Linked DNA regions of Homo sapiens. The protein of the gene in region 5 purifies or fractionates together with the protein of the main gene of each other region. This does not show direct contact. Each region holds a gene or a part of one and is shown on either strand. Other genes may lie near its edges.

Region 1 (4,171 bases), on a different chromosome or scaffold from region 5:
ACTGTATGGTCTTATTTTGTTAAATAACATTTCATATTACCTAACCTCCCCAAACTATAAAGCTTCAAGGCTGGGGTCAAGTCTTTCTTATTTTTTTTTTCGCATAACTCTTAAAACACATAGTATAGTATGGTAAACCTATGAGACAATGAAAAACTGTCTTTTCAAGTGGGATTAAAAAAAATGAGGCCTAATAATAACACAATACAAAAGGATTTGCTAGTCTTTATGCCTTCATTTAAGAATAATGATCCTTCAGATGATAATTCAGGGTTGTTTTAAAATCAGTGTATCATTTTGAATTTATAGTGAGCTGACTGATAACAACCGTCTATCAACACCAGCAAACTGGCAGATTAATAAACCTGTTAGATAGAAAGTTGAATTGATGGTGGCTGACCATATAGTAAAATAGCATATGAGAATGAATGTTAAGTCTAACAAATTGACAAATTCTAGTTATCATCCAAGTGATTTTGCCCCAAGGCTAATCATTGGTTGAATTTAAAAATAAAAACTTACATCTTTTAAGGCTTTACTGCTAAAAAAGGACTCTCACTTTCTATCATATTAAAACCCTATGAGGTAAATTAAGGTGGGTTAATTGTCCCCAGTGTACAGATAAAAGAGAGTCCTAGAAGAGTGTGGTGGCATGCACCTACAGTCCCAGCTACTTGGGAGACTGAGGCAAGAGGACTGCTTGAGCCCAGGAGTTCAAGGCTGCAGTGAGCTATAATGGCACCAATGTACTCCAGCCTGGGTGACACAGCAAGATTCCATTTCTAAAAAAAGAAAGAAAATGTTAATTTAAATTTTAAATTTAAAAAAAATTTTGTTTTAAGAGTATCCAAGTCAAGCAGAATGTCCAATGTCACATAAATCTTAAGTGGCTGGACCAGAATTAGTCCTACAAAGCTCATCCTTTGTTCCCAGTTCCAGACTCTTCCTGCTCTGCCACCTCATGCTCTCAGTGGTTAGCACTCTATTTTAGGAATAATATCTGTAATTCTTAAACAATAATAAATTTCTAACCAAAATGCACATAAGAGAACTAAACTGGTCTGCCTTGATAAAACTGCATCCTGTCAAAGCAAAGATGAGATTATATTCAATTAGTGCTGCTGTTTTGACTGGACTTTATAGCACAAATTCATTTAATAGCACACCAAAGTAAAAAGCACAAAAGCCACTTTATGTGAGGAAATGGTCAGGCTGCCCCTGTCAGCTCATGGTAATTTGTCCATACGTTTGCACAACTTCAGAAGTTTGACCCAAAAGGCAGTCTGGCTGTCTCGGGTGGGAAGACTAGGATCTGGGGAGATCAAGTCTATAACATCCAACTCTGTTAGTTTTTCCAATAACTCATTTCTTCAGCCAAGTATCCTTTAATATATCAGTCTAGATGGAATAATACAGATACTATATGAATTCTGTCACTGCAATCACTCTGATACCACTATAGACAACTTGTTCAGAATAACTAACATATATAGGTAGAAGTTAATGAAAAACTTCAGCCACACATAAGGAAAAATGAAACAGCTATGAAAACGGAATGGGCTGCCTTCTAAGGGAGTGAACTCCCTTGTGAAGGCAGTATTCAGGTAGAGATGAATAACAACAACCTATAGGGAGTATGTAACAGAAGAGAAGAAAGCAGCAGCTGGGGAGAAGGGTTTGTAAGATCTCTTATAATCCTCAATCTAAAAAAATTAACTCTATAAATTGAATTAGTTTGCTGCTAATAGATGAAAAATAAAAAATCAAAACAAGTCCTAATACTGTCTGAACTTGTTTAGGTCATTTAATATCTGCGGGCAGCTTATATAATACGTAAAATGAGCTGGAATTAAATGTTCTTTAAAGTTACTTCCAAGCTTAATTCTCAGTTTTTGAGTTGCTAAAAATAGATGTCCTCCAAATCACTACACTAAAGTGAGATCATAAACTTTATTCACTCACAACTTACATACTTTTATTTTACACATTAGCATATTCATCTGGGTTCTAAAACTAACAGAAGTATTTAATGCCACTGAACTAGGGAACTTAAAAATGGTTAAAGTGGTAATTTTTATGTTATGTATATTTAACCACAATTTTTTGAAAAAGCTAAGCAGAACTGGATACAGAAGGTAAGAGTGAAGGAGGATAGCTAAAGTAGAGACATGAAGAACAGTCAACTGATACAAGATACAAAAATCCACAAAAGAACAAACCCACCCTTAAGAGTACTGGTTAAAGCAGAACCAATCAAGGCATGAGAGAACTTACCAATAAATATATTTTAGTGTAGGGCTACGCAAACTACAGCAGGGACCTCCTCTTTTTGTAAATAAAGTTTTATTGGAAGACTGCCACATCTATTTACCTATTGTTTGCAGCTATTTTGCTACCACCACTGAACTGAGAAGTTGTAGTAGTGACTAGAGAACCCCAAAAGCTGAAAATATTTACTATTTGGCCTTTCAGGGAAAGTGTGCCAGCACTTGTCTTACAGCATCACTGTATTACAGTGCAGTATAATAATGCATCCTTAAAATACACATAAGTTGAACAAGAAATGTTAAACTCTATTGATTACAATGTTTTAATATGGCAGAGAAATATGTAACATTTACTAGGGAGATATATCAAGCATAGTTTTAAATTTTTAAAGTTTGATGTTTAAGGGTACCAGTGAATATGATTAGACAATGCTGATAAACAGGAGCTGTGCAAATTCATACATAACCTATTTTCATACTTTTCTTTCAATGTAATGGTGCTTACTGTTCTTATACAACCAGAATCAGGATATTAGAAGAGTAGACAGTAGAGATTTACAAGTTCAAAACTTAACAGATGTGGTTCCTTTGATTTTCAAAACTATGGAATGTTTTTTACTGTTTTAGACGTTTCCCACTTATAATGGGGGGGAAATCTTAAAAGTAACAAAAGGAGGCAGGAAAAACAATGCTCGTTCTCATAAACCACAACTGCTAATGTCATTTTGGCTTATTTCCTTCTATTACTTTTTCTGAGCTTTTTAAATAGCTTGAGATCATACTGCATAGAAAATTCTGTATTCTAACTTTTGGCCGTTATAACATTACCTTATATCCTAAAAAGTACCTGCAAACATTTTAAATGACTAAATAAGAGACCCTCATATGAATGTACCACAATTTACTTAACTATCCCACTAATGTTGAACATGCGTTTTTCTCCATTTTTCTCTAGTATGCATAACACTGTACCAAAAATAATAGGAAATAAATCTTTCTAACACTTCAGTTTATTTTGTGAACTTAGATTCCTAAAAAGGTATGAATACTTTGTAAGTTCCTCATAGAGCTTAAAAATTGCTCTTCAGAAAGTTTACCATCAAGAATTGAAGGACGGGTCTATGTCACTCAAAATATCCTCATCAAGAAGACAATTTTAAAAATCTTTTTTAGAAGCCTGTACCAGAAATAAATAGGCAAAAATATATTTCTTAATCCTGAAAGCTATCAGTTTTATTCATTATGCAACATCTACAGTTCTATGTTTCGAAAGTAATGCTTTTACTATAAACATTTCTTTATAATGAATTTAACATATCAAGCAGAGGACACTCCCAAATGGAAGTCAAGGTACATTAACATTTTGCTTCTACTACGTTGTAGGGGGTCAGAAAATCACTAAGTGCAGTGATGACTCACAAGTAATGTGTTTCATAACCAAAGCAATTTTGCACCTGAGTAGATTTCAGGGTAAAACTGTACTAACAGTATCTCTATGTGAAAGCTATGTACCTCACTGAGAGATATCAGTAATTAATAACTATTTTTATAAATACATCTGTTTACTCACCTTTCTTAAGCATTTCTCTTACTAGCAAATGACTTAAAGGTGAAAAGGCACAGACAGGCAACTATAAAATATAACCTTAATTTATATAGGATTTAACATGATTGAGCTCCCTCACACAAATTCTATAATTAGGCTTTCAGCTTATATGGTCATAATTTTTCTTCATTTCAAATATCACAAGAAGGAAGTAGTACAGCCTTTTACTATTACTTTCTTTTTTTTTTTTTTTTTGAGACAAGAGTCTCGCTCTGTCACCCAGGCTGGAGTGCAGCGGCATGATCTCGGCTCACTGCAACCTCCACCTCCTGGGTTCAAGCGATTCTCCTGCCTCAGC
Region 2 (4,171 bases), on a different chromosome or scaffold from region 5:
TTGAATCAATTTTGATGTCTTTTTTTTCCCCTTTTTAAGAAACAGGGTTTCTCTCTGCTGCCCAGGCTGGAGAGCAGTGGCATAATCATAGCTCACTGTACCCTCAAACTCCTGGGTTCAAGCAATCCTCCCACCTCAGCCTCCCAAGTAGTTAGAACTATATGCCACATGCCACCATGCCCAGCTAATTTTTCTATTTTTTTAAAGAGATGGGGCTTTACTATGTTGCTTAATTGTGGCCTCAAGCAATCCTCTCAACTCAGTCTCCCACAGTGGTGGGATTATAGGCGTGAGCCACTGCATCCAGCCCTGACAAGTCATTTACTGTCTCTGTATCTATTTGCTCACCTACAAAACGTGGATAGTAATATTGTTTACCTATAACCTATCATCACCAACAACAAAACCCACCCTACAAATTCAGGTCTCTGAATTTGCACCTCTTTTCTCCCCATAACTGTACAAACGGCACTTAATTAGGTCATATAAGTACCTCCCCAGGATTGATCCTCAGGAATAATTTTGAGCTTCTTTCTGATGGGGCCATTCATGAGCTGGCTTAAGGCATCTCGTTGTAGGTGTCTCACGTGGCGCTGACAAAGACAAACTAAAACCAAACTGGTAGATAGTGAGTCAAAGGGCTGGAAGTAAGGCCAAGAGGACATCTTTTTTTTTTTTTTTTGAGACAGAATCTCTCTCTGTCTCCAGGCTGGAGTGCAGTGGCACGATCTCGGCTCACTGAAACCTCCGCCTCCTGGGTTCAAGCGATTTTCCTGCCTCAGCCTCCCGAGTAGCTGGAACTACAGGCACCCGCCACCATGCCCAGCTCATTTTTGTATTTTTAGTAGAGACAGGGTTTCACCATGTTGGCCAGGATGGTCTCGATCTCTTGTCCTCATGATCCACCCGCCTCAGCCTCCCAAGTGGTGGGATTACAGGTGTGAGCCACCACGCCTGGCCATGAGGACATCTTTACCAAGCTGCTGGGGATGCTGCACAGCAAGAGGGAGGGTTTCAGATTCAGCTGGAAAAGGAAAAGCGTCACCTTGATTCACCCCCAGCGGGAGGAAGGAAGTCAGAAACACATTGAAAGTGGAGAGGCTTTATTATTAGGTTGGTGCACAAGTAACTGCGGTTTTTGCCATTAAAAGTAATGGCAGAATTTCTCAAATTCAATGGCACTCTGGCCTGGGCAACAGAGTGAAACCTTATCTCTTAAAAAAAAAAAGGGAAAAAATAGATTTGTCAAAATTGGTTCAAAATAAGGGGTTGGTAGGGAACTGGGTGGGAAGGGAAATAATGCTTCATTAGTTGTGAGTTAATAATTCTTGAAACCTGTCAAAAACCACAGTTACTTTTGCACCAACCTAATAGTATTGATTATACATTCTATAGACTTGGGGGCCATTGGGATTCTCCAGAACGGCCAAAGAGAATCATCTAGAAAGTGGAACCTAGGGTATCCTGCAGCCTTTATATGCTTCTTGGTTGGCTGAAAGATGACTAAATTCAGTCTTGAACTGATGTTGTAATTTGGTGTATGGAAGCTGGTTTCTAAACTTCAAAAACATCATGCTATGTGACAGAAGCCAGTGCAAAAGACTAACTATTGTGCGATTGTATTTATATAAAATGTTCAGAAAAGGAAAATCTAGAGAGACAGAAGGCAGATGAGTGGTTGCCTGTGGCTGGGAGTGGGAATGAGAACTGTCTGCAAGCAGACACGTGGGATCTCCTTGGGGTGACAGAAATGCTCCATAACTGGATTGTAGTGATGACTGCACAACTCTGGGAATATACTGAAAACCACTTACAGTGAGTTAATTTTATGGTATGCAAATTATATGTTAATAAAGTTTTTTTTTTTTTTAATAAACAGGTTTCTTTTTGCATGGAGGCTGAGGCAGGGACTTTAATAACTTCAAGGTTCACTCACCTAGGTGGCTCTGTGTGAATTCTAGACTCGACTCCATTGTAGACGTGGGAGTGCTTTTAGTTAAGATGTTATAGAAGTTCACCCCATCTGTGTTCTGAAATATAAAAGTTTATTTGGCTGTTTGTTTCATTTTCCTATCATCAAAGCTGCCAAACAGAAGGACACATGGCTCTTTATCTTATCCAAGGACAGGTTTAATTTTGTATATCTGCTTGGATCAGAAAGAAATAGAGCTTTGGCTGGGCCTGGTGGCTCATGTCTGTAATCCCAGCACTTCGGGAGGCTGAGGTGGGTGGATCACTTGAGCCCAGGAGTTCGAGACCGGCCTGGTCAACATGGTGAAACCCCTCTCTACTGAAAACACAAAAATCAGCCGGGCGTGGTGGTGCTCACCTGTAGTCCCAACTACTCTGGAGGCTGAGGCATGAGAATCACTTGAACCCAGGAGGCAGAGGTTGCAGTGAGCCGAGATCGGGCCACTGCACTACAGTGTGGGTGACAGAGCCAGACTTAGTCTCAAAAAAAAATAAAAAAGAAAGAAAGGAAAAAGAGGCCAGGCGCGGTGGCTCACGCCTATAATCCCAGCACTTTGGGAGGCTGAGGTGGGTGGATCACCTAAGGTCAGGAGTTCAAGACCAGCCTGGGCAACACGGTGAAACCCCTTCTCTACTAAAAATACAAAAATTAGCTGGGTGCGGTGGTGCGTGCCAATTATCTCAGCTACTCGGGAGGCTGAGGCAGGGGAATCACTTGAGCCCAGGAGGCAGAGGTTGCAGTGAGCCAAGACTGTGCCATTGCACTCCAGCCTGGGCGAGTGTCTCAAAAATAAATAAATAAATAAATAAATAGAGGAAAAAAGAAAAAGTAAAAAATAAAATAAAGAAAGAAATGCAGCTCTGAAGTCTCAGAAACCAGCTGTGTCAGCCCACTCTCCCTGGAGTGGTGAGCATCTCATATGAGCAGTGATCAGGCCCTGCAGGGAAAAAACCAAGGGCCTAGGTGTTAATTTACAGGGAGAACAGAGCTGCAGAGGGGCCTACACTCCCAAGTCCTTAGCCTACGCATTCTTTCCTTCTGGCTCTCTGGAGTCAGAATGTTGCTTGGCAAGGGTCCCAATAAGGGAATGTGTTTTCTCCACACACTCACCTCTGCAAGACAGTCTTTTTTTTTTTTTTTTTTAATAGAATCCATACATTTAGTGAAGGACAAGCAAGTCTTGCAGGCCTGGGTGGCTTTCTGACTCTGTAAGGAGCCACTACATCACTGCTTAGACCCAAGAGATTTATTATCCAGCATGCAATCATTTGCAGATATGTGGGGAGCCTCAGTGTAGACTCCAAGTTTGACAACACCAACCATGGGCCCTGTACCCACCAGAAAAAGCCAAGCAGGCTCGCCTCTGAGTGTTTCCCCTTTTTACCTGTTCAATGATCATTTCTGCTTTCCCCCACAGCTCTGTGGCCTCTCTGTAGAGCCCCTTATTTACGGCATTCAGTACTTGCTCTGCAACCTTAGACACCTCTGCCAGACCTTTGTCTTCGAGAAGAGACTGGAATGCAAACCAAGAGCAAAAAGACCCACTTTACTTGGGAACGTCAATCTGGTATTGCTGCAGTTAGGGAGGGGTAGGAGAAAGAGGGGAAGGAAGGAGAACGGGAGCTCACATATCAAAGTGTATTGTTACAAGCCACATGTTTATTGGATGAAACACAGCAAATTGTTAACTGAACCTAAGTAGGTATTCACCGTGATCTTTCAACATTTCTGCATATTTGAAAATTTTTGTAATAAAAATTTAGGGCATTGGAAAAATGTGTTTCTTATATCTGGAAAAAAGTGATGTGTGCTGATTTTCTTTCAATTTGTCCCTGAGGCGAGCTCTTGCTTTGGGTCTCCAACTCTATGTGGATGACTAGTCCCTAAAAAGCAGTGTCAACCACATAGGCAAACTCATCCAGCATCTCTTTTCCTGGGGTCACAGCCAGAAGAGATCTGCTGGGCTGTTTGCCCAGAGGGTGCAGATGTGTATCTACTTACCATGCTGTACAGGTAAGGTCCCCAGGAGAGCACCGAATCTAAAGGAAATCACATATGTACAAATCAAGTATGTCATACCTCTGTCTTTCCAAAGACAAACCTACTGTCTTCTCTCTAAAGAAGAAAGAGACAGAAGCAAGAAACCCGGTGGCTTTGGATTGGAAGGCTCCTCAATTCACCTGTACCCATGCAGGAGGC
Region 3 (4,171 bases), on a different chromosome or scaffold from region 5:
GACCTCCTGACCTCAGGTGATCCGCCCACCTCGGCTTCCCAAAGTGCTGGGATTACAGGCGTGAGTCACACACCAGGCGTGTTTCCTCCACGTTTCTGCTCAAGGCGGAAAATCTCCATCTACCCTTAACTTATGACTCAATCGTGGAGCTTTGGCCCCAGATGGCACATACAAGCTCCCTGCCTGCCCCAAGAGGTGCCCTGTGGGCATTTGCCTCTGTGACAGAAGTCCACTCAAGCCAGCCATTGTAGCTAGCATCGGGGCTCCAGCCATCAGTGAGGGCAGCCAGGGCCGGTCCTCGGCCTGCCCCAGATGGCACATTGATGGGGGCTGTGTGGACTTACAGCTGGGAGGGGCTGCTGGGCATGCCCAGGTGGGGCTCTTCCAGTGAGGCAGCGATGCTGAGGCTGAAGGACGAGGCCGCCTATCAGAGGCCCAGAGGAGAAGGAGGGTAGGCAGGGGGCAGAAAGGGGCCCCAGGGGGAGGAGTGGGAGATGGTCCATGGGTGCTTCTCTGAAGGGGGCAAGCTGGACAGGGTGGGAGTGGACGCTGGATCACCTGGGCAGGGCAGTGGTCTGACCTGGGTGGGGAGCGAGGGATGGGTGGGGCATCTCGCCCAGTGGGAGAAAGGCTGGCATGGCAAGCACCAGGACCCCCGGCTGGGGCAACGAAGACCCCAGTGCCTGGCCCCTGAGGGGCCTTGAGGCCTACGGGCAAGGAAGTGGGTGGGAGCTCCTACACCCAGGCAGTTCCCGGAACTGCAAGTCCCTGCCCAGCACTCAGCCCAGGGTCGCTGGGGACAGACCGCTTGCGGGAAGCCCATCAACCCTGAGCGTGCTGACCCTAGCCACTCATTTCCATGATGTGTCTCTTCCGCCTGGGTTTGCTGAGTGTCTAGAATCTTCTGGAACTTCCCACAAGCTCTCGGCATGCAGAGGGGAGCATCCATCTGCTCTGGGCCCCACGTGGCTGCATCAAGCCTCTGGGTGCACTGAGCCTCCCCTGGGCCTGGGCCTGGGCCTGGGCCCATCTTCTGTCATCAAAAGTCCCTGGTGTTGGAAACCTCAGCTGGCTCAAGGGGACAGGCAGGGAGGACAGGATATCCATCAGCTTCCCTGCAGCTGGGGACCCAGCCTGGCCACTTCCATGGGCCTCCCGGGGCAGCAGGGCCTGCCTTTCCCTCTGCCCTGGTGGCGGGACACTGGGGCTCACCCCAGCAGGACCCGCCCACTCACGCCTCTTCATTGTTGAGCACATCCAGGAGGCTGGCGATGAGCACATCCTTGGGCAGCGCCTGGCTCCGTTCCACAGCCTCCAGGAAGAGCTGCTTCCCAAAGCACAGCTTCCTCCAGGGAGTCTCCAGCAGCGCGTTGCTCAGCCCGTAGGTGCCTGTGAGGAGCAATCAGCGGGCCATGCAGAGGCCCTGCTGTGCCATGTCAGGGCAAATTGCCACCTGCCACCCACCTAACACGGGGTACAGCTGGGGACCATGAAATCAGGCCAGACTGAGGCCAAGCCGCTCCATGCTCCAGCTCCTTCCCCATGCTCATTCCTGACCTGATGGCATGGCAAGGAGAGGAGAACTCAGCAGTAGGCGGAAGCGGGCACCCACAGGAGACCACAAGGCACAGATGCCCAGCAGCCTCGATGGATGGATGAATAAGAAATGAGCAACCTGAGATCTCACAGGCAAAGGGGACAGCCAAGAGGGAACCTCTTCACCTCACGCCAGGTTGGGGGGCCACCTGAGAAGTTCAAGAGTGGGAGAATTAGCCACCAGAGGCCAGGAGGCACCCACCACAATCATGTCCCTGTTTGGGGAACCCCCAACAGCGCCACACAGTGGGCACAGGTGTAGGCTGGGCCTCAGCAGAGCATGGCCCACCTCTGCGTACCAGCCAGGCCCCAGGTTAGGAGAGCCGGGGGGCTCTGCACAGACTCTGAACAAGCTCCCAGAGTGTTGGCAGAAGGCATGGCCAACAGGAAAAGGGTTTCTCATGTCACAGAAAGTGAAGGGCAGGGACTTGAGGTGGAGAAGCACCTCACCTCAGAGGCTCTTCTCTAGAGGCCAGGGCAGCAGGGGTGGGCTTGATGGGAGCCAAGCACCCCAAATGATGCACCAGGGAGACCAAGACACCACCCTCTCCCTGTCAGACTTCCAGGAGAATATCTTGGCCGAGGCATTTCCCAGGGAGACAGCCTGGCTCTGCTGGGGCCCCCAGAGCCAAGCCGCCAGCCCCAGGTGTCACAGTGCTTTTTCCATCATGAACAACATGGAAGACCATTGAACTGCATAGTCATGGGCAAAGAAGGGAGTTGGACTCTACCTGACACCATACACAAAAGTTAACTCAGGTCAAGAGAGGTGGCTCACTCCTATAATCCCAGCACATCGGGAGGCTGGGGCAGGAGGATCACTGGAGCCCAGGAGTTCAAGACCAGCCTCGGCAAAATAGCAAAATAGTGAGGCCTTATCTCTACAAAACATAAAAGTTAGCTGAACATGGTGGCACACATCTGCAGTCCCAGCTACTTGGGAGGGAGGATCTCTTTTTTTTTTTTTTTTTTTTGAGACGGAGTCTTACTCTGTCGCCCAGGCTGGAGTGCGGTGGCGCAATCTCGGCTCACTGCAAGCTCCACCTCCCGGGTTCACGCCATTCTCCTGTCTCAGCCTCCCACGTAGCTGGGACTACAGGCACCCGCCACCACGCCTGGATAATTTTTTGTATTTTTAGTAGAGACGGGGTTTCACCGGTTTAGCCAGGATGGTCTCGATCTCCTGACCTTGTGATCCACCCGCCTTGGCCTCCCAAAGTGCTGGGATTACAGGCGTGAGCCACCGCGCCCGGCTGGGAGGATCTCTTAAGCCCAGGAGGTTGACAGTGCAGTGGGCCATGACTGCACCACTGCACTCCAGCCTGGGTGACAGAGCCAGACCCTGTCTCAAAAAAAAAAAAATAGTTAACTTAAGTCAAACCAAAGACCTAAGTGAAAGAGCAAAAGCTATAAAACTCTAAGAAGAAAGTATTGGGGAAAGCTTCATGACCTTAGATTAGGCAATGGTTTCTTAGATAAGAAACCAAAAGCATGAGCAACAAAAGAAAAAAAAAGAGAGAGACATAGGACTTAAAAATTTTAAGCTTTGTGCTTTAAATAAGAGACTTGTAGCTAGAATGAATGTATAAGTCACTCCTATAACTCAAAAAGACAACCCAGTCTGAATAACCATTTCTCCAAAGAAGACATACAAATGGCCAACGAGCATGAGAATAGCTGCTCAACATCATAGCCATCAGAGAAACGCAAACCAAACCACGAGTCCACACAACTTCACACCCACTATCGTGGCTATCATCAAAAACACAGAACATAGCAAGTTTTGGTGAGGATTCAGAGAAGCTGCAACCCGCATACACTGCTGGTGGGAATGTATAATGCTGCGGCTGCTTTGGCAAACAGTTTGGATGTTCCTCAAAAGGTTAAACAGGGTTACCATACGACTTAACAACTCCATTCCTACGTATTCACATGAGAGCCATAAAAACATATGACCACACAAATGCTGTGAGGTCACACTGTGAGCAGCACTGTTTCCAACAGCCAAAAGGTGGAAAAAACTCAAGTGTCCATTAATGGATAAAGGGAAGAAACAAAAAGTACCAACTGGCTCGAGGGTTCAGGGCAGCTGTCTCAGCAACTCCCTAAATTCCTACAGCTACAAGAAAAACCACAGTCTTGATAAACTCCCTCACAACAGTAGAGATCACACACGTTATCAGACCCTCCTAACTCTTGACAGCCCAGACCACCACAACCCTGACTGGACAGAGAACCAGCCTTCAAACACTCTTTTCTGATAAGCAACTACAGACCATAAGCCAGTTTCAGCAGTTCATAGAGGCTGCACTCCAACTGTGTCCTAGAGCTCACCTTCTGATGGAAAGATCCAGATTCTACCTCATTTTAATGCTAAAACCCTGCCCCAAAGTGAACATGGGATGTATGTTACATGTATGTTTATCTATTGCATATGTTCTCGGGTCCCCTCATAAATATGTATGGCTTTTCCCCAAACCTGCTGAATATGTATGACTCTATTGTGTGATATGGACCTTGGGAGGCATAAAACTCAAACTGCCCTTCCCCTCTTCAAAGAGAGCACCTCAGTCCA
Region 4 (4,171 bases), on a different chromosome or scaffold from region 5:
ATGTGTTGGGATTATAGGCATGAGGCAACACGCCCGGCAAACAATCTTTTTTTTTTATGAGAAGGAGTTTCACTCTTGTTGCCCAGGCTGGAGTGCAATGTCATGATCTTGGCTCATCGCAACCTCCGCCTCCCGGGTTCAAGCATTTCTCCTGCCTCAGTGTCCCGAGTAGCTGGGATTACAGACGTGTGCCACCATGCTTGGCTAATTTTTTTTTTTTTTGTATTTTTAGTAGAGATGGGGTTTCTCCATGTTGGTCAGGCTGGTCTTGAACTCCCAACGTGAGGTGATCTACCCGCCTCGGCCTCCCAAAGTGCTGGGATTACAGGCGTGAGCCACTGCACCCAGCAATCTCCTTTTTTTAACAGTAAAATTTTTATCTCCTCCTTAAACTACTTACTTGAAGGTGTAAGTGCGAAGAGGAAGTCATATTATAGGGGAAGAAAAGAATGTTTAGCATTTTTGAGGCCTCAGAGTGACATAGATACCTCATATGCCATGCAGAGGAATGGTCTTATCAGTAAACAGAGCGTGCTGTGGTGGTGAGTTCTGACCCAGTGTAGATGAACATCCATGGATAGCACAACCCCCAGGCACAGACTCTCAGGCCTGGGAAATGACAACTGAGAAGGTGGAGGGTGGGTGGAAGGCTTGGGAGTATAAATGCAGACACAGGAATAGAAGTGACACAGAAACAGCCAGGCATGGTGGCTCCCAGCACTTTGGGAGGCTGAGGTGGGCAGATGACTTGAGGTCAGGAGTTTGAGACCAGCCTGGCCAACATGGTGAAAACCTGTCTCTACTAAAAATACAAAAATTAGCCGGGTGTGGTGGCAGGTGCCTGTAATCCCAGCTACTGGGGAGGCTGAGGCAGAATTGCTTGAACCCGGGAGGCGGAGGTTGCAGTGAGCCAAGATCACACTACTGCACTCCAGCTTTGATGACAGAGCAAGACTCTGTCTCCAAAAAAAAAAAAAAAAAAATACAGACACACACACGCAAAACAAAACAAAATCAGCCACTGCACTCCAGCCTGGGTGACAGAGTGAGACTTTGTCTCAAAAACTAAACTAAAATAAAATAATCTTGTAAGGCAGTTATTACTATACCCATTTTGTAGGTGAAGAAACTGAGGCTTAGAGTTTACATAACCTGTCAATGGTTTCTCTGCTGGTAAATAAAAAGTCAGGATTCAGACTCATACCTGTCTGATTCTAAGCCTTTGCCCTTCCTAGGGCAATTCTTCCTTATTGAAAACTTGAATACCAATCTCTGGCCTGCAATCTGTAGACAGTGAAACCCTGCTATCATAACAGGTGTGTGACAAGGCAAAAGCTACCGGTGAACATGTGCAAGCAATATCTCTACCTATCAGGGCAATTTTGACAGGAGTTGAAGAAAACAAGCGCCAAAGAAAGGCACTCTGGAACACACTACCTTTTTTTCCTCTATTTTCAATTTTGTTCAACACACTCACTTTATAACCTGTTATCTACATAAGAGGTCCTCAAAATCACCTCTTCTGTACAACCCTTACTAGAATTACTGGGAGAATGGAGTTCTAAAGAAGCACCAAGGAGATGCTGTCCAGATTTTTTTTCTTTTTTAAAATAGAGACAAGGTCTCACTACGTTGCCCAGGCTGGTCTCAAACTCCTGGGCTTAAGCGATCTTTCCAGCTCGGCCTCCCAAACTGCTGGGACTACAGGTGTGAGCCACCACACCCCGCCCAGATTTTCAGCAAGCATTCGAAGAGGACTAATGTATACCAAAGATTTTTCTATTCCCATATGTGAATGATTTAGGGAGCCTTGGATCACTCTGAGGCCCTACAATGCCTAAAAGGAAAGAACTGGCTCTTGGTGCAGTAGATCCAGAACACAGTGTGGCTCTGTGAAAGACACTGACAGCCAGGACACCCATGCTTCACGGATTTCCCATCTGAAGCTGCCACTGGAGAAACTACGCAAATCCCTGTGTGGGTGTCTGAGCTCTCTCACCTTGAACCACACAGTGGGATGTGTGACTGATAGAGGCGGGTCTGCCTTGGCTCTCATCCAAGAAAGAAGGTTTTTTTATATCTAGTAGAAGCAAGTCACTCATTGCTAGATGTTTCAGAAAGCCTTGTTACACAGGTCCACAATCCCACAGCAGAAACTCTTGGGGGTCAGACATGTTTTCAATATGAAAATATGTCAGATTTTAGAAAGGTGTTATGGGGAACATACCATATATTATGCAATACCTCTAGGGAGGTCCAAGGCAACACCCATAATCAAGTATGTTAGTATTTCTCCAGTGAAACATGAACATTCACAGTAAATGGGATAAAGACTAACGTAGACTCATAGCAGCTCCAACAAGGTTCTGTCATCAAGTGATTTCAGATCAAGCTGGGTTTTTCTGTCAAATGACTTGTGAAAAACAAAAATGTCTAGGTTTCAGAGTTTATTAGATTTCTGTAGTGCATGAAAGGACCGTGGACCTGTTATAATGCCTCTTGCTTGTATCTTTAATAAGGTAATAAAAAATAATAGTAGCTAACATTTATTAAGACTTACGGTGCTAAGCCCTATTCCAGGCCTACGCTAAGCCTGTGCACACCACCATCTCATTTAATGCAGGCATTCACAAAACACCTGCTTAGAGTAGGAACTCTTTTTTTTTTTTTTTTTTTGGTAGAGGTGAGGTCTTGTTATGTTGCCTAGGCTGGTCTCAAACTCCTGGCTTCAAGCAATCCTCCTGCCTCGACCTCCCAAAGTGAGTGCTGGGATTACAGGTGTGAGCCACCACACTCAGCCAAGTAGGAACTCTTATTATAACCATTGTGATGATTTATTTTATGTGTCAATTTGCACAGGTTACTGTACCCAGTTATTCAATCAAATACTCACCTAGATATTGCTGTGCATCTACAATCAATTGGCTTTATATAAGGAAATAATCCCAGATAATCTGGGTGGGCCTAATCTCATAATCGAAAGACCTTAACAAGGCTGGGTACAGTGGCTTACGCCTGTAATCCCAGTACTTTGGAAGGCTGAGACGGGTGGATCACGAGGTCAGGAGTCCAAGACTAGCCTGGCCAAGATGGTGAAACCCTGTCTCTACTAAAAATACCAAAAGTAGCTGGGCATGGTGGTGGGCGCCTGTAATCCCAGCTACTCGGGAGGCTGAGGTAGAGAACTGCTTGAACATGGGAGGCGGAGGTTGCAGTGAGCTGAGATCACACCACTGCACTCCAGCCTGGGAAACAGAGCAAGACTCCGTCTCAAAAAAAAAAAAAAAAAAAAAGACCCATGGGCTACAGCATCTGCTCCTGCCTGAGGGCTTCCAGCCTGCCCCTTCTGATAGCCTGCTCTATGTATTTCCAATTTGCCCAGCCAGCCCCCGCTATCGTGTAAACCAATCCTTATGATAAACCATTTATCTATCTATATATAGTTGACCCTTGAACAACACAGGTTTGAACTGCATGGGTCCACTTATATGTGGGTTTTCTTCCACCTCTGCCACCCCTGAGATAGCAACACCAACCACTCCTCTTCCTTCTCAGGATGCAGACCTTTATAATGATCCACTTTCACTTAATAGTAAATATATTTTCTCTTCTTTATGATTTTCTTAGTAACACTTTCTTTTGTCTAGCTTACATTACTGTAAGAATTCAGTATATAATACATTTACAAAATACGTGGTAATCGACTATGTTCTTGGGTCTTGTGGTCAACAGTAGGCTATTAGTAATTAAGTTTTGAGCCAGGCATGGAGGCTCACACGTGTATTCCCAGCACTTTGGGAAACTGAGGTGGAAGAGTTGCTTGAGCCCAGGAGTTTGACACCAGCCTGGGCAACACAGGAAGACCCCATCTCTACAGAAAATTTAAAAAATAGCCAGGTGTGGTGGTGCACACCTGTAATGCCAGTAACTGGGAAGGCTGAGGTAGGAGGACTGCTTGAGCCCAGGAGGAGGCTGTAGTGAGCTGTGTTCCTGCCACTGCACTCCAGGCTTAGCAATAGAGTGAGACCCTGTCTCAAAAAAAAAAAAAAAAAAGGAAAAAAACTGTAGTTTTGGGGGTAGTCAAAAGTTATACATGGCTGGGTGCACACCTGTAATACTAGCGGCTTGGGAGGCTGCGGCAGGAGGATCGCTTGGGCCCAGGATTGCCAGG
Region 5 (4,171 bases):
GATCAAAAGGAAAAGTGGCAAGCAATGAATTCAGAGAGGAGCCCAGTATTAGATCCAGTAGGACCTTACATGCTATGGTACATATTTCAAAAAATTTTTTGAGTGAAATGGAAAGCCACTGGCATTTTCAGCAGAGCTTGTACATTATCTGACTTACATTTTAAAAGGATGAAGGTGATTGCTGTATGGAAAGTAGACTATACAGGGCTAAGGGTGGAAGCAGGGTGAAGAATCAGGAGGTTACAACTGATCAAGGGAAAGATGATGGTGAAACAGAAAGTGAGAAGGGTGGAAGTGGACAGAAGGAATTGTCTTTTGGTACATTTCAAAAAAATATGCTAATGAGTTAGCTGTGGGATAAGAGTAAAAGGTGACAAGAAGAATGCCCAGGTTATGGGTTAGCAACTAAAGAGAGAAACAAGTTCGGTGAGGGTGGGGAGTCAGGAGTTCTGTTTTGTGCTGTTAATCTTGAGTTGTATCTTAAACATTTAGGTAGAAATACAGAGTAGAAAGCTGGATGTGTAAATTCTGAGTTCAAGAAGAGATGCGGCTAATGTTATAAATTGGGGAATCATAAACAGCGTCTAACACTATGGGACCTGATGGGATCACCCAGAGCAACAGCAATGGTCAGCAAACTCTGGCTTTATGGGCCAAATCTGTCACATGGCCTGGTTTTATTTTTGTAAATATAGTTTTATTGGAACATAACCACAGTCATACTTTTACTGTCCATGGCTGTATGTTACAATGGCAGAGCTGAGTAGTTGTGACAGAGACTGAATGGTTCGCAAAACCTAAAGTATTCCTTATCCGGCCCTTTACAGAAAACTTTGCCAACACCTGCCCTAGAGAGGCAGTATAGATAGAGAAGTGGGCTGAGGATTGAGCCCTGGGCATTTCAAAGGCTAGAGTTCGGAAATATGACAAAGGTTCAGCAAGGGAGAATGTGAAGGAGAAGCATCAAAACTAAGACAAAGTGCATCCCAGAGGAAAGCAGTTTCCTCTGGGAAAGACAAAAAAAGTGTTTCAAAGAGAAAGTGATGAACTGTAAAAAGTACTGCTGATAGGTCATATGAGGACTTCAAACTGACCATTAAGGTCGCAGCATGGAGGTGACAGGTAGCCCTGACAAAAAGCAGTTGGTAGAACAGTAGCGATGAAAGCCTAAGTTAGGTGATCCTTGACTATTTGGTTTATATTAAAAAGACTAGAAAAAATCACTGGGAACTCTGTGTTCCCACAGAGATGAATGGGTAGGAGGCTGGCTGTTATGCTGGGGTCCCCAAATACCAGCATGCAGAGTACTGCTGGGGCACCAACACCATCAGGGGTCCTACTTCCCTCTCAGCTCTTCATTCACTTTTACAGTTGGAACTAACACAACCCTCATGCATTAGACCTGCATGGGAAACATTTGTGTACTATTTGTAGTACAACTTAAACTAATCCCCCTGTGTTAAGTTCTACATCCATCTAACTCTCTATCCTATCTTATATCAACACACCCACAACCTCTCTGAGGTTCTGCAGCAGCTCGGCTTTTCCCTAAACTACGTCCCCTGAACACATATACTTAAGCTGGGACTTCTTCCACACTGCTTCATTAATAACCATATCTCCATTGGTTTTTTAATCTTTTATACATATTTCAAAATCTCAAGCTTTGGTGGCTCCTTATCTGTTGTTTTAGGGTTACCCTTTCTTATCCTCACTTACTATCACTTTAATAGGATATTTATTATAGGGGAAAAGAGATAAATGATTGTAGTCACTGTGTCATTTTTGCCATGGTATTTCACTGTCGTCAAAAATCAGATTGTGTCCTTAGGCATTAATTGCTAACCTCTATCAGGCCCATCAATCTACACGATATTGCCAAACAGTGGTCAAAATTCTCCCTTCAACTGGTCTGAAATCAGATTTTATTCTAGCATTTTCTAAGTTATCTATGTGATTCTTTCTCTCACAAGAGCAAGTTGTATCAGGATGAAAGTTTATTACTTACACTAGAGCAAGTGAGAAAATTGAATGGAATGTGAAAACCATACCTAATTTTATGTATCTATACCAGACAGCTAAATGTATGCCATATACCAACATATGATTACACACGACTACAAAACCACTTATAGAGATTCTTACTGGAAGCTTCAGCAATGACTAAAGCTAACTTTGTTTTATTTTCTGATAAAAAGATTAAGAAATGTAAAGGAGCCTAAAAACTTCAATAAAAATGCTTCCTCTGTTCCATATAGATCACACAATTCCTATTTCACAGCACTGATATAGAAAACGTTTAAGGTTTTAAGGACTGAAAAATCAAATAAAATACTTTTTCTATATTCACACAAAACCCATTGTGTTCCATTATATCAGTTGAAGTTCTATGATATAGGCCAACTTTAAAAAGTTACAGAAACTCATATTTAAGACTCAAACAAATTTTGTGGATTATTCACGGGAAGTTCTCTTTTAAGTCCAAAGATACAGCACTTTCAATGGCAGATTCCTCCTACTACCCAAATGACATAAAGAAAACCTACAGTAATTTCAACACAAGCACATGCTTACTATAAGTGACAAAGCAAATTAATTTTAAAGAACTGCTTGGTTCATTCCCAGACTAAATAAAAGCAACTTGAATTATCCACAGCACTATTTCTCTAAGTAAACCAGTTGCCTATCCCATAATAACAAAATTCCTAATTATGGAAAGCATAGCTTTTCCCTATCCTATGAGAACAGTATGAAATCTAAAATAAAATTTCAAGTTATTAACGAAACAAAACAAACAAAAACACGCAAGATATCAAAGGAATACTGGCATGCAGCATTAGGTCTTTGGCTCAATATAAGTGAGTCTAACTTCATTATGATTTCACAGTTAATTTAAAAGACTGCAAGTACCCATTAAAACTTTAAGACCTAGGAAGCCGGGCACAGTGGTGCATGCCTGTAGTCCCAGCTACCCAGGAGACAGAGGTGAGAGGATCGCTTGAGCTGGGGAAGTCAAGGCTGCTGTGAGTCGTGATTGCACACTGTGCTCCAGCTTGGGCAAAAGTATGAGACCCCATCTCTAAACAAACAAACAAACCAAAAAAATAAAAATAAAATGAATAAACAACAACAACAAAAAACCTTCTGAAACCTATAAATTAACAGGAACACTTCAAAATAATCAATCACATCACCTTATTTTCTCCCTTCACAGAATCTAATAATAAGGATTTTAGTCTAATGTCTTAAAGTCAAAAGGGAAAAATAAATAACATTTATTAAATACCTATCACGTGTGAGACACTGATAATTACACACATAGTCTCATTTAACTGCCACAGCAATTCTATAAAATTACTAGTGCTATCCCCATTTTATTTACGGAGAAACTGAGCTACCGGATGTCATCTGAAGGTAAGGGATGCCTCTGGTTAATTCAGTCGAGTGACTTGTCCAAGACGGTAAAGTCAGGACTACAACTTAAGTGGTTTGACTATTAGTTTAGAACTGTTACAGCACAGTTGCTTCTGGAAGTTGCAGAAATCATAACCCTGATGTCACTAAGATGTTAACAAATGTTCTGAGAAATAAGTACTCTGTGGTTCAGTTTTTGGAGAAGTTACATCCGAATTTTCCAGAACTTAAATAGGCAAATTCTTCTTCAAAAAAGTAATAAAATGGGAAGTGTTCTAATTTATTAAACCATGAAACCCTCTGTTTTAACGAAAACCTAATAATATACCATGGGATGCTTGTGTTCAACTAAGCAGTCTGGAAAATGATCATCTGGTCCAATCTCCTCATTCCATGGTTTTAAAAAATGAGATGCAGGGAGGTGAAGTGACAGCAAGATACTAACAGGGTCAGGGCTGGCACCAAGGAGGCCTGATGATTCCCATCAGGATACCCTTTCCCCTAATCATCCTGTCTCACTCTTTCTACAAAGTTTAACACCAATTTTTTTTTAAGTATTACATCAATCATTTATTCTGATTTTACTGAATGACAGTAAAGAGAAACCATTTACAGACATGAAGCTCGAAAATGTTCTACCTCCCAATGCACTAGTATTTCAGAGACTTGGAATATATTTGGAGATGTGGAAAATGATTACACTTTAGTAACACTGAGTAACAATTTTAGGCCAAGTATACTACACTCATATTTTTTT
Region 6 (3,298 bases), on a different chromosome or scaffold from region 5:
TTTGGTTTTTTGTTTTTAGTTGTTATTGTTGTTGTTTTCAGACAAGGTCTCACTCTGTTGCCCAGACTGGAGTGCAGTGGTGCAATCACGACTCACTGCAGCCTCAACCTCCTGGGCTCAAGAGATCCTCCCGCCTCAGCCTCCCTAGTAACTGGGACTACAGGCATGCGTTACCATACTCGGCTAATTTTTGTATTTTTTGTACAGACAGGGCTTCGCCATGTTGCCCCGGCTGGTCTCAAACTCCTGAGTTCAAGTGATCCTCCTGCCTTGGCTTCCCAAAGTGCTGGGTTTACAGGCATATGAGCCACCACACCCGGCACAAACTGGTTTTGAATATGAACGGAATAAAGATTTTCAAGGAAAACAAATTTTCATTTAGTATTCAGAACTCATCTTTAAAGTCTTCCATGTGATTTTCAACCATGATAGGCAAATATGGGCTTTAAAAAGAAGGAAGAGGAAAGTGACCAGTGGTTCTGAGCCCTTGTTTTAAAAAGTCAATCACAGGTAAGTGAGCAAATGGACAAGAGATTTAAGTAATTTTCAAAGTTGGGGCATTTGCTATTTTATCAGTGTCTCAGAAGGCTGTCCAAAGGCTATAGATTTAAACAAATAACATGGAGTCCTCGAGATACTGGCATTTCCATTTTTAAGGGTAAACATCTGAAAATGATGATGTTCAAATTAAGAGTCTGGTAGCAGTTTACAGTTACATATGGAGTCGAAAGAAAGAAAATACCATCTCTGTTCTTACGTACAGATTATTTATTGTAAAAATGTAAGCAATTACAAATTGATCTGTTGTGAAATCAGTGCTGAATTAACATTAATGTAACTCCAGTGAAAAAAATGAATTTGATCAATTATTATCAGGAATAAACATTAAGCCATGACGGTGCTCAAGTTATCTTCTGATGACACTGCTGTATTAAATGTACTTTTCCTATGAGAACCTTAGAAAAATAAAAATTTCTGAGTAGATCATCTTTATCTTTTCTTTTTATATATTTATAGCCATATTTTAATATAATAGGCCATGAGGTGATATGTAAACATACATAATTTCAACAAATTTTGTCAAATAAAATCATATTTCTAGCTAGAAACTTGCCTTCTAATCATTTTAAATGAATAATCCAATCATCCGTCAAAACAAATTTTTTTTTTAAATGACTGTTAAATCCTAACCTTCATTTTCCCCTGGGGAAATAGCATTAAAATTGTTACACAATCTGCTATAGAAAGTGGGATTCTCTATTTTGAAGCCACTAGCTTGCATTTGCACATCTAGCACAGGAGAATCTTCATCCAGTGATGAGCGGGTTACACGGATGAACGCTAAGCTTCGCTGCACAGGTGCAGGGCCCCGGCCTCACAGATTTGCCTTCTCCCTTGCCGCCAAGTGAGATCCGGACTGCACAAAGGTGTGAATCGCATTCTGTTTTAAAAGAACAAGATGAGCAGGTTAATCACCTCATGGGCAGCAACGTGATATTTACTCAGTTTTAATATGTATGCAAATGAAAATAATAATTCAGAATTCATTCACTTTAACTGTCTTAAATTGCCCAGCGCTAAAATGAAGAGTATGTGTTTTGCCAGTGAATTCTTTATCTCTCAAATGAATTTCTGCACAGCTGCCTAAGAAATCTAACAGTGGCAGGTAATGGCCCCTGCAGACTGTAATGCTAAGTGGTAACTAAGTCATGCCTACTCCAACCCAGCACACACAGCCTCTGCATGGCCAGGCTGCTCCCAGCTTACCTTAGGCTTCTCAGCATTGTACTTGTCCAGAAGAGCCTGGATGTGGCTCCCGTAGTCAGGGTGGACCTCAGTGAAGTTCTTGACCTAAGGCCAAAGGAAAATAAATGCAAGCATTACTCTAACTCCCTACTATATCACTCCCCAGGGACTGTGGTTTCCCAGTGTTTATTCCATAGGGGAGGAAAGACGTTTCAGCAGGAGGCAGTACTACAGGTGTTTAACAATGCCAGCCTCAGAGTTAAGATGCAGGTCCAGTGAACACTCTGACATATACTGGCTGAGCAACCTCGGATAGGTCACTTAACTTACTGAGCTTATGTCCCTCTGCCGAAATGCGCAAGAAAATGACACCTAATCAGTATAATTTTAAAAATACTATTTGGTCTTTGTCCCCCATTCCTGACACAGATCTAAAACCCTTCGAATGTACTGTCTTTTATATACTACTAAGATGATTCATGGGGGCCTACATAGATTCCTGATGGAGGCTCACACCAGGAAGAACAAGCACGCGATCAGAAGGTTAGAACTTCTAGCCCCACCCCCAAACCTCCAGGGATGGGAGAGGGGCTGGAGATTGTATTCAATCACCCATAGCCAATAATTTCATCAATCATGCCTATGTCATAAAACCTCCAGAAAAACCCACAACTGGCAAGGTCAGGGAGTGTCTGGATTAGTGCACACATCCAGGAGCTAGAAGGGTGGTCCACTCAGGGAGGCACAGAAGCTCCGAGGCCTTCCCCCATGCCCCTCTTCCATTTGTCTATTCCTGAGTTGTATTCTTTATAATAAATTGGTAATCATAAGTAAATCATTTTCCTGAGTTCTATGAGTCTTTCCAGCAAATTATCAAACCTGAGGAAAGGGTTTGATTTGCAGTCAGAATCTGCAGAAGTGTGCATAGCCAGGGTACCTCATTTGTTATCTAAAGTGGGAAATGACCCCTAAATCTTTGGGTTCTGACTCTAGCTCCAGGAGCTACTGTTAGAATTGAATTGAGTTATAGGACACACAGTTACTGTCAAAGAATTACAGAATTGCTTATTGTCGGGGAAAAAAACCCATACAACCTAGGCCAGGCGCAGTGGCTCACGCCCGAAATCCCAGCACTTTGGGAGGCCAAGATGGGTGGATCACCTGAGGTCAGTAGTTCAAGACCAGCCTGGTTAACATGGCAAAACCCCATCTCTACTAAAAACACAAAAATTAGTCGGGCATGGTGGGGCATGCCTGTAGTCCAAGCTACTGGGGAGGCTGAGGCAGGAAAATCTCTTGAACCCAGGAGGCAGAGGTTGCAGTGAGCCGAGATCATGCCACTGCAGTCCAGCCTGGGTGACAGAACAAGACTCCATCTTAAAAAAAAAAAACCCACACAACCTACCTCACAGGATGCTGTGAGAAAAATGCTGAGAAGTGAGGTGCATTTACTGCATGAAAAGAGCTGACCTCAGAGTAAGCGCTTAACAAATTACAGTGATTTACATTGAGAAACGGGCCCAGACACAGCCTAAAGTTAATGTGAAGGATA
Region 7 (4,171 bases), on a different chromosome or scaffold from region 5:
CCTGGAGTTTGAGGGGTCCTTGTTACCATTCTGCAACAAAGAAGTGTTGGTGCCTCCACAGAAACCAGCTTTGGATGGCTGCTGAGGACAAATCCCCATTGTGGATAGAACTGGGAATTGCCTGGATACTCAGTATGGATAATCTCTCTCTTTCTAGGATGCTTGGATATTAATTCATCTGTGAAAGGGGCTCGTTTTGTCAGATTCTGTGATGCATTCAATATTCCACTCATCACTTTTGTTGATGTCCCTGGCTTTCTACCTGGTAAGTTTTTGACAGAGTGGGGGCTAGGAGAGTTGCCTTTCCCAGTAAGGTGCCCACTTTATTTGGAGATCTTCTTGCAGAACTCCCCGAGGACTTGTGACTTCTCCATGTATTCTGGGTGTCCAGAAGATAGGGCTGTGTAAGGAATGGCCCTCTCCAGAGGTGGGAAAGACCTCACAGCTGAGAGTGGCAGGATAACCATGTGAGGACTTGTGGGTATCTAGTAACTCTTCCTCATGTCTAGGCACAGCACAGGAATACGGGGGCATCATCCGGCATGGTGCCAAGCTTCTCTACGCATTTGCTGAGGCAACTGTACCCAAAGTCACAGTCATCACCAGGAAGGTGAGGACCTCATGTTGGAGGCCATGACCCTGCTCACTTTCCTACAGCATAGCCGTGGTGGGAGGTCTGGCAGAGTTTTACCAGGGCTGGAAGGAGTACACCTTGCTCATCCTTAAAAAGATCTCTTGAGGATGTTGTTCCCAGCCCCGCAGAAATGTCTGTGCTTTTTTAACACAGGGGAACTGAAGGCAGTAGTGGGAAAAAGCCAGAAAAGATAATGAGCATTAACTTTGAAAGGTCTTACAGACCGTGGGCCTTCAGGAGCCCAGTAGGGCTATTCTTGTTCTTTGTCCCAATTTTACCTGGTTTCCTGGGGTCTTTCAGGGACATGATCTGGCTGTCTCAGGCTCTAACACTCAGCATTTGGATCTGTTTTAGGCCTATGGAGGTGCCTATGATGTCATGAGCTCTAAGCACCTTTGTGGTGATACCAACTATGCCTGGCCCACCGCAGAGATTGCAGTCATGGGAGCAAAGGTGAGGGCCTCTTGCTTTTCCCTTTCTGGGTCCAAGGACTCGACTCTACCAGCGAGAGCTCAAGGCATAGCTGGGAAATGTTGGAGAGAGGCCAGGGCCCCTAGGTTGAGCCAGGACTGAGGTGAATGGGACCTAGACCTTGGTAAGTCTCCCTCTTGGGGCTCCAGAGATAGCTCTGCCTCCTGTCCTATACCCTTTCTTCAGGCCCACGCTGGTGTCTTCATGCCAAGGTGGGTGCGGCAGGTGAAAGGAAAGTGAGAGGGGTCCAGAGTGGTTTTGAGATTGTAAGTAAAGGGGGCAAAGGGTTGAGTCAACTGAAGTCACCTTCAGAAGTATTGGACATTCTCCCAGCTCCACCTCAGCTTCCAGGGAGGGCCCCAGAGCTACTCTTTTAAGCTCATAAGAAGCTAAACTGTAGGTCCGACCCTAGTGACGTTGGACAAGGTACTTCCTATTGCTTGACCTATTCCTCACTCCTCCCTGCTTTGAAGTAGCTATTGTGGTCGAATCAGATAACTTCCAGGTCCCCTAGAGTTGACTTATAGGTGCTCTGACTTGAAGGCCAATCCTTCTAATTTCCAGTTCAGTCTGGTCGCCTCTGGCCACCGAATTGTATACTCAGGTCTTAGGGTACCGAAAAAGGGAAATAGCACATTTAATTCCCCTTGATACAAGACCATGGATTTAATAATGGAAAACAGGGCTAACATCTTTGGCTCAAAGAAATATGATGAGTGCAAATGGAGATGGTAGAATGGGCTCTGGGGAGAGAAGCTACTGGCTTTTGCCTGACTGCCCCTTATTGGGGCCACAGGGAAGCATCACATCCCATCATGCAGCCCCTTGTGTCATGATGGTCAGCCCCAGGCAGTTCCTCCCTCTATGCTATGGCCTTTAGAGATGGCACTTCCCCTCAGTACACTGATTTACCAAGAAATTTGCACCCACACACAGTGATAATGAGTTGAAGGAGATCTGTCCAGGTTGGGACGACCAAAGATGTTCATGAACTCCTCTAATCACAGGGCGCTGTGGAGATCATCTTCAAAGGGCATGAGAATGTGGAAGCTGCTCAGGCAGAGTACATCGAGAAGTTTGCCAACCCTTTCCCTGCAGCAGTGCGAGGTAGGGGACTGTGGTGAAGAGGGCAGCTTTGTTTGTTTGGTCAACTTGCTCATTCTTTCTCTACAGAAATTGTCACATAACTGCCTTTTTGCCTTTGCAGTCTAATCTGTTGACTAGTGAGGGTTGGGACTGTCCCTGGGCAGTCATCACTTGGACTAAGGACTGTGGGACAGGCTGCTTTGGTAACCACAATTAAAACAACATTGCCAAAGTGTATTAAATTTCTAGGTGTTGTTCCAGTTGTCTAGTGCTGTGCAGAAATTCACCCTATAACTCAACAGCTTAAACTAACCACCGTTTCCCCCACTGCTTATGGTTCTGTGGGGTCCACAATTTGGTCTGGGCCCAGCTGAGTGGTTCTTGTGCTGGTCTTGCCTGGGATCACCCACACAGGTATAGTCATTCTGTGGCTTGACCGGGGCTTGACAGTCCAAAATGGCGTCACTTACTTGGTAGTTGCTGTTAGCTAGACTCACTCCCCACGTGGCCTCTCACCCTTGAGGAGGCTAGTCCAGGCTTCCTTACATGGTGTCCCGAGAGTAGCAAGGGGGCAAAGGGAAACTGAGGCCTAGATTTGGAAGTTGCACAGTGTCATTTTTGCCACATTTTATAGGCCAAGAAAACTCAACAAGGTTAAGCGAAGGAATACAAATCCACCTCTTGAAGAGAGAAGTGGTAAAGTCACATTGCAGGACTTGTGTACAAGGATGAATTGTTATAGCCATTTTTGAAAACCTAGATGTATTTTCTTTATTTCCTATTGAATTCATTGTGGCAGGATGGAGGCATTGGAGCAAGCAGGGTATAGGGAGGGTGTCCGATTTTCCTTTTCTTGCCAAGTGCTCCTAGGCCAGAAGTTGGGGAGCTGTCAGAACAGGCCAGCTCCTGGGATACAAGGGGGAATTCACAGGGCCTACCATCTCTGTATCAGGTTGGGCACTGCTTATACTGCTGGCCCCAGGGATGGTGCCCAGGCTGAGCAGAAGGTTGAGGGGTGGCATCATCTCGGGATGCAGATGATCCACTCCCTTTTCTGTGCTTCACCAGGGTTTGTGGATGACATCATCCAACCTTCTTCCACACGTGCCCGAATCTGCTGTGACCTGGATGTCTTGGCCAGCAAGAAGGTACAACGTCCTTGGAGAAAACATGCAAATATTCCATTGTAAACAAATCAAAGGAAAAGAAACCAAGAACTGAATTACTGTCTGCCCATTCACATCCCATTCCTGCCTTTTGCAATCATGAAACCTGGGAATCCAAATAGTTGGATAACTTAGAATAACTAAGTTTATTAAATTCTAGAAAGATCTCTTTTGTGCCTTACTGTAAAATTATTTACTTTTTTAAACATTTTAAGTTGTATTTTTTGAGCATAAATTCGATTTTTTTAGGTGGAAATCTGAAAAATCAATACAACTAGAAAGAAAAATAGTACACAGTGTTATCATCTAGAGCTGATTTTTATTTCACACCTCTGGGTATTGTTCTTTTTCCTCTCGAGTTAGTTTTTTTATCCATAGGTGAGATATATAGTAAGTTTTTAAGGCAAAGTATTTCTTAGGCTTAAGTTTCCTTATTTTAAAAATAGGGTAATATGCCCTATCTATCTCCTAATTCCTCCATGAATTGAGGATTAAATGTGATGTTTGCAATTGTGGTATATGTGTTTAGCAGTACAGATGCTCAATAAGGCATAGCACCCTATGTTGACTCAGGTTATTTCCAGAAATGTGTTCTTAAAATTAAAAAAAAACTTTTTAATTGCGAAAATTTTCAAGCCGATAGAAATGTTGCAAGAAGTGTATTGTATCCACTTCACCTAGATTCTCCAGTTGGTAACATTTTCTCCATTTGCTTTATTTCTTCCATACGTAGATATATCTAATAATATATAATATGCATATAAGATATATCTAATTATATTATTAATATAATTAATGTATAATTATATCTAAC

The links.
Region 1: the proteins of PPA2 (region 5) and GLS purify together in Homo sapiens (affinity purification with mass spectrometry, with the first as the bait; one large-scale study listed by BioGRID). This does not show direct contact.
Region 2: the proteins of PPA2 (region 5) and SCPEP1 fractionate together in Homo sapiens (co-fractionation; one large-scale study listed by BioGRID). This does not show direct contact.
Region 3: the proteins of PPA2 (region 5) and TANGO2 fractionate together in Homo sapiens (co-fractionation; one large-scale study listed by BioGRID). This does not show direct contact.
Region 4: the proteins of PPA2 (region 5) and NENF fractionate together in Homo sapiens (co-fractionation; one large-scale study listed by BioGRID). This does not show direct contact.
Region 6: the proteins of PPA2 (region 5) and CAT fractionate together in Homo sapiens (co-fractionation; one large-scale study listed by BioGRID). This does not show direct contact.
Region 7: the proteins of PPA2 (region 5) and PCCB purify together in Homo sapiens (affinity purification with mass spectrometry, with the first as the bait; one large-scale study listed by BioGRID). This does not show direct contact.

What each region holds. Positions count from the first base shown.
Region 1 is NC_000002.12:190,886,814-190,890,984, reverse strand, and holds part of GLS (glutaminase kidney isoform, mitochondrial isoform 1 precursor), read right to left. Parts: intron 1-4,171. UniProt on the Homo sapiens protein: Catalyzes the first reaction in the primary pathway for the renal catabolism of glutamine. Plays a role in maintaining acid-base homeostasis. Regulates the levels of the neurotransmitter glutamate, the main excitatory neurotransmitter in the brain.
Region 2 is NC_000017.11:56,994,821-56,998,991, reverse strand, and holds part of SCPEP1 (retinoid-inducible serine carboxypeptidase precursor), read right to left. Parts: intron 4,012-4,171; coding exon 3,974-4,011; intron 3,486-3,973; coding exon 3,357-3,485; intron 2,031-3,356; coding exon 1,937-2,030; intron 1,025-1,936; coding exon of another isoform or gene 933-1,024; exon of another isoform or gene 608-932; coding exon 494-607; intron 1-493. UniProt on the Homo sapiens protein: May be involved in vascular wall and kidney homeostasis.
Region 3 is NC_000022.11:20,058,748-20,062,918, reverse strand, and holds part of TANGO2 (transport and Golgi organization protein 2 homolog), read right to left. Parts: intron 1,746-4,171; coding exon of another isoform or gene 1,684-1,745; exon of another isoform or gene 1,430-1,683; intron 1,424-1,429; coding exon of another isoform or gene 1,390-1,423; coding exon 1,236-1,389; coding exon of another isoform or gene 1,232-1,235; exon of another isoform or gene 1,213-1,231; intron 425-1,212; coding exon of another isoform or gene 345-424; intron 1-344. UniProt on the Homo sapiens protein: May be involved in lipid homeostasis.
Region 4 is NC_000001.11:212,435,430-212,439,600, reverse strand, and holds part of NENF (neudesin precursor), read right to left. Parts: intron 1-4,171. UniProt on the Homo sapiens protein: Acts as a neurotrophic factor in postnatal mature neurons enhancing neuronal survival. Promotes cell proliferation and neurogenesis in undifferentiated neural progenitor cells at the embryonic stage and inhibits differentiation of astrocytes.
Region 5 is NC_000004.12:105,467,405-105,471,575, forward strand, and holds part of PPA2 (inorganic pyrophosphatase 2, mitochondrial isoform 1 precursor), read right to left. Parts: intron 1-4,171.
Region 6 is NC_000011.10:34,469,511-34,472,808, reverse strand, and holds the end of CAT (catalase), read right to left. Parts: intron 1,852-3,298; coding exon 1,768-1,851; intron 1,442-1,767; coding exon 1,376-1,441; 3' UTR 749-1,375; downstream 1-748. UniProt on the Homo sapiens protein: Catalyzes the degradation of hydrogen peroxide (H(2)O(2)) generated by peroxisomal oxidases to water and oxygen, thereby protecting cells from the toxic effects of hydrogen peroxide.
Region 7 is NC_000003.12:136,326,646-136,330,816, forward strand, and holds the end of PCCB (propionyl-CoA carboxylase beta chain, mitochondrial isoform 1 precursor), read left to right. Parts: intron 1-157; coding exon 158-265; intron 266-509; coding exon 510-610; intron 611-988; coding exon 989-1,087; intron 1,088-2,112; coding exon 2,113-2,212; intron 2,213-3,259; coding exon 3,260-3,381; 3' UTR 3,382-3,524; downstream 3,525-4,171. UniProt on the Homo sapiens protein: This is one of the 2 subunits of the biotin-dependent propionyl-CoA carboxylase (PCC), a mitochondrial enzyme involved in the catabolism of odd chain fatty acids, branched-chain amino acids isoleucine, threonine, methionine, and valine and other metabolites.